2 separate regions of the Homo sapiens genome follow, and region 1 is linked to region 2. A link means that fine-mapping ties the variant in region 2 to the expression of a gene that starts in the linked region. Tissue or cell type: whole blood. Region 2 holds a variant in brackets; the other region holds the start of a gene. All regions are shown on one strand. Distances are between the middles of the regions.

What was found. PIP is the estimated chance that this variant, and not a neighbour inherited with it, causes the effect.
Region 1: it holds the start of ARHGEF18, and the variant in region 2 is fine-mapped to the expression of ARHGEF18 in whole blood (TOPMed, PIP above 0.99).

Annotation. Positions count from the first base shown.
Region 1 is chr19:7,347,688-7,350,313 of GRCh38, forward strand. It overlaps ARHGEF18 (Rho/Rac guanine nucleotide exchange factor 18), which reads left to right and starts at 1,250. Exons shown (of 29, transcript NM_001367823.1): 1 at 1,250-1,554.
Region 2 is chr19:7,449,645-7,452,400 of GRCh38, forward strand. ARHGEF18 (Rho/Rac guanine nucleotide exchange factor 18) reads left to right here. Exons shown (of 29, transcript NM_001367823.1): 16 at 1,505-1,622. Among named protein-coding and RNA genes, the nearest start is that of PEX11G, 38 kb to the right of the region's middle. RefSeq lists enhancers at 616-1,160, 1,161-1,703. The variant C/T (reference allele first, on the strand shown) is at 1,645.

The DNA of each region.
Region 1 (2,626 bases), 100 kb before region 2:
ATGTGGCGAAGTTTTAAATTTTTTGTAGAGTACTCACTCCAGTGACAGGCTGAAGCCAGCCCAAGAGCCAAGTTTAGTGGAGCATCATGGCTCATGCCTGTAATCCCAGCACTTTGGGAGGCCAAGGCGGGTGGACTGCTTGAGCCCAGGAGTTTGAGACCAGCCTGGGAAACATAATAAAATCCCTGTCTCTACAAAAAAAAAAAATTAACTTAGGCTGGGCGCCATGTCTCGTGCCTCTAATCCCAGCACTTTGGGAGGCCAAGGTGGGAGGATTGCTTGAGCCCAGGAGTTCGAGACCAGCCTGGGCAATATGGTGAGACCCTGTCTGTACTAAAAATACAAACCAAAAAAAAATAGCCAGGCGTGGTGATGTGTGCCTGTGGTCCCAGCTACTCAGGAGGCGGAGGTGGGAGGATCACTTGAGCCCAGGGGATGGAGGTTGCAATGAACCAAAATCACCCCCACTGCACTCCAGCCTGGATGACAGAGTGAGAGCCTGTCTCAAAAGAAAAATTATATATAAAAAATTATATATAAATTATATATAAGTCTATATATAATCCATATATAATTATATATAAAGTATATATAAATTATACATAAATTATCTGTAAACAAAAAACTTAGCCAGGCATGGTGGCATGTGCCTGTAATCCCAACTACTCAGGAGGCTGAAGCAGAAGGATCACTTGAGCCCAAGAGATTGAGGCTGCAGTGAGCTATGATTTTTCCACTGCACTCCAGACTGGATGACAGAATGAGACCCTATCTCTAAAAATAAAATAAACAGTTTTTTGTTGTTGTTGTTGTTGTTTTCTAAAAAAAGCCAAATCTGAGCATTTCCTATCAACTCCACACTCGGTGACATCACACTGGTAGGTGAAATCGGCCATGCTGGGGGTATTTACACCAGGAGAATTGGCAATGGCTACAAATCGGAGAGGTGGTTGTTAAACGTTACCAGCACACCATGTTGTTCCGCCAGCTTCCAGGTACCCATGTAACAATGTAGCCACGTGTGTTTCTGTCTCTCTGTGTGTACCCACCATGCTGGTGTGTGTCTGGGTGCCTGAGTCTCTACGGATACACATGACCTGCACGTCCCTATATGTTGCTGTCTATACACCCATGTGCCTGGGTGAGGCCCCCACACCCTGTTCCTCTTCAGCAGTTGGTTCCACAGGAAGCTGCTGGGGTGGGGGTTGAGGACGCTGGGCCTCCCTCCAGCTCCCCACCCCTCCTCCTCAAGACACCTGCATGCGCAGGGCTGAGGGGTGGGAGCAGGGCTCTCTGCCTCCAGAACCCCCATCCTCTGGGCTCTTTTTAGGCCCCTAGATTGGCCTGCAGCTGGGAGCAGAGTGGCAAGCATGCAGGCAGGCAGTTGAGAAAGAGGAAGTCGAGGTGCTATTGGGTCATTCTGTGGTTATCCCAGGCTCTACCCAGCCAGCGGTTCCCTTGGGCCAGCTCGAAACGCTGGCCGTAGGTCATGGGAGCTGCAGGAGCTGTTAGCCAGGCTAGGTGCCTGCAGGTTGAAGAACTGAGCTCTATCTGGTAAGTACTTATCCTGGGAAGTGGAGAGAGATGGACCCATCGGGACAGAGTGGCAGTGGGGTCTGGGAAGTCTAGGGGGACAGCGAGCAGACATACATCACTGTTTCTCTCCCCCTTGCAGTCAACTTGCTTCCTGAGTGGGTGGGGGAAGCTGTTTGACCCTTGCGTTCATTGTGCAGAGATCTGTGGTCATAAGAGGTCACCCCAGGGGACGGGGATCCTTGAGGGGCTGCTAGGTAAGAAAGGAGGGTGGAGGCCGGGCGCGGTGGCTCACACCTGTAATCCTAGCACTTTGGGAGGCTGAGGAGGGCGGATCACTTGAGGTCAAGAGTTGGAGACCAGCCCGGCCAACATGGTGAAACCCCGTCTCTACTAAAAATACAAAAATTAGCCAGGCGTGGTGGCGGGCAGCTGTAATCTCAGCTACTCGGGAGGCTGAGGCAGGAGAATGGCTTGAACCCGGGAGGTAGAGGTTGAAGTGAGCCTCTCAGTCTCAAAACAAAGAAAAGAAAAAGAAAAGCAAAGAAAGGACGATAGAGCTCCTTGTAGCCAAGGCCCTCCTGCGTGGAGACAGGAGACAGAGAATGAATGGGGGAGCTGGGGCAAAGGCTCAGGTGCCCTTTGCATCTTAAACTGCAGATTCCGGGCCCCCCAAGAACCTCCCTGTTGCAGATTCTGAATCCACTGTCAAAACAAACTCACACTTAAGGCTGATGGCTGACAACCAGCCCTGAGAAGGGTCTTGTCCTGATCTGAAATCATCCAGAGAGCACATCCCTCCACCCAGGCAGCCTTCCTCCAGGTGAGGGTTCTCCCCCTTGGGAGACATCCCCTGTCTCCTCTCGTGGCCCCTTCTTAGGGGGACCTCCTGCACCACCGCCTGCCTGGGACTGGGAGGGGTGGGGGAGGAAGGCTGCGGTTTCTGCTGGGCACACCCAGTCTGTTGTTTCCTGCCAGCCCCCAATGCTGCAGGGCAGGCTTCAGGCACCCTGAGGTCTAGGAAGGTGGCCCCAGAACCAGGAGGGAGTGAATTGAGCTAGAGTGGACAGCTGGGGCCAGAGAGGATGGAGCT
Region 2 (2,756 bases):
TGATTTCCATAATAACCCCCTGGCTGGTTCTCATTTATTTTATTTTTTTAGAGTCAGGGTCTTGCTCTGTGGCCCAGGCTGGAGTGCAATGGAAGAATCATGGCTCACTGCAGCCTCAAACTCCTGGGCTCAAGCAAAACCTCCTGTCTCTGCTTCCTGAATAGCTGGGACTACAGGAGTGTGCCACCATGCCCAGCTAATATTTTAATTTTTTGTAGAGATGGGGTCTTGCTGTGTTGCCCAGGCTGGTCTCAAACTCCTGGTCTCAAGCATTCCTTCCACCTTGGCCTCCCAAAGTGCTGAGATTACAGGCATGAACCACCACATCTGTCCTTTGGTGGCCTTTGTATATACAGCAGGTGATCCCTGCGTTCAGGTATCTGGTGTCTGTCTCCTCCAAAGTGGCAAAGGAAAGGTCCTGGTGAGCTGAGAAAGGAAGGAGCCCCCAGCCTTGGCAGCCGATTGTTGACAAATTGGGCAGAAACCGAGATGTTAATGCAGGATCTTGCTGTCCATTTCCGAGATGTTAATACGCAATCTTGCTGTCCATTTCCGAGCTGTTAATGCGGTATCTCGCTTTCTGTTTCTGAGATGTTAATACAGGCTCTTGCTGTCCATTTCCGAGATGTTAATATGGGATCTTGCTTTCTGTTTCCATTTCCAAGACGTTAATACAGGATCTTGCTGTCCATTTCCAAGATGTTAATGCGGGATCTTGCTGTCCGTTTCTGAGATGTTAATACGGGATCTTGCTGTCCGTTTCCAAGATGTTAATGCGGGATCTTGCTTTCCGTTTCCGTTTCCGAGATGTTAATACAGGATCTTGCTTTCCGTTTCCGTTTCCGAGATGTTAATACGGGATCTTGCTGTCCATTTCCGAGATGTTAATACAGGATCTTGCTTTCTGTTTCCATTTCCGAGGTGTGAATGTCGATCTTGCTTTCTGTTTCCAAGACATTAATATGGGATCTTGCTTTCCATTTCCATTTCCAAGATGTTAATACGGGATCTTGCTGTCCATTTCCGAGATGTTAATGCGGGATCTTGCTGTCCGTTTCCGAGATGTTAATGCAAGATCTTGCTTTCCGTTTCCGAGATGTTAATGCGGGATCTTGCTGTCCGTTTCCACGGTGTTAATGCGGGATCTTGCTTTCCGTTTCCGAGATGTTAATACGGGGTCTTGCTGTCCGTTTCCGAGATGTTAATGCGGCGTCTTGCTGTCCGTTTCCGAGATGTTAATGCGGGGTCTTGCTGTACCTTTCTGAGATGTTAATGCAGGATCTTGCTGTCCGTTTCCGAGATGTTAATGCGGGATCTTGCTGTCCGTTTCCGAGATGTTAATGCAGGATCTTGCTGTCCATTTCCGAGATGTTAATATGGGATCTTGCTGTCCATTTCCGAGATGTTAATGCGGGATCTTGCTGTCCGTTTCTGAGATGTTAATACAGGATCTTGCTGTCCGTTTCTGAGATGTTAATACAGGATCTTGCTTTCTGTTTCCTAGAAAATTGGCAACTTCTCCATCGTGCGGCGGCTTGGCGTGCAGGAGTGCATTCTCCTGGTTACACAACGCATAACCAAATACCCAGTGCTGGTGGAGCGCATCATCCAGAACACGGAAGGTAGGCCTTCTCCCCACTGCCC[C/T]GCCCGCCCGTGCTGCTGCAGCACAGGGCTCTCTCCGTGTACCCACTCCCTATTTGAGCAGCAAACTGAATAAATTCCCTTTGAAATCCAGTTTGCTGGGTGCTGGGGTTCCTTCCTTTTTTTTTTTTTTTTTTTTAAGAGACAGAGTCTCACTCTGTTGCCCAGGCTGGAGTGTAGTGGTGAAATCATAGCTCATTGCACAGCCTCCAACTCTGGGGCTCAAGTGGTCCTTCTACCTCAGCCTCCCAAGCACCTGGGACTACAGGCATACGCCACTACACACAGTTAATTTTTTTTAATTTTTTTTTTAGAGATGGGGTCTCGCTGTGTTACCCAGGCTGGTGTGGAACTCCTGGGTTCAAGTGATCCTCCCACCTCGGTCTCTCCAAAGTGCTGGGATTACAGGCATGAGCCATCACATCTGGCCTGGGTTTTTTTGTTTTGTTTTGTTTTGAGACAGTCTTGCTGTGTCCCTCAGGCTGGAGTACAGTGGCACGATCTCGGCTCACTGCAACCTCCACTTCCCAGGTTCAAGTGATTCTCCTGCCTCAGACTCCCGAGTAGCTAGGACTACAGGCGCCCACCACCACACCTAGCTAACTTTGATATTTGTAGTAGAGATGGGGATTCACCATGTTGATCAGGCTGGTCTTAAACTCCTGGCCTCAAATGATCCACCCATGTTGGCCTCCCAAAGTGCTGGGATTACAGGCATGAGCCACCATGCCACGCCCAGCCTGGCCTGGGGCTTTTGATACAAGAAAGATGGGGTGGTCAGCACCATGAAAGCAGGAGCCAGGTCTCATTTGCCAACTGTTTCCCCCAGCCCCTAGCACAGGCTGGGCCACTGCAGGCCCTCAGTGTTAGTGTCTGTGGAAAGGATGAATGGATGGAGACGGTGCCCTGGTGGTTCAAACAGACCCAGAGATGGCCTCTGTGTCACATGACCAGGGCTGAGCAAGGGATGTGTCTGGAGCCAGGGAGGCAGAGAAGGGCGGGCAGTCCAGCCAGGAGTTCTGGCAGCCAGGGCCGTGCTGACCACAGCTCTCGCTTCACCACTGAATTCAGGCCGTGAGAGGATGAACAAATTTCCCCACTATAAAAGCCACATC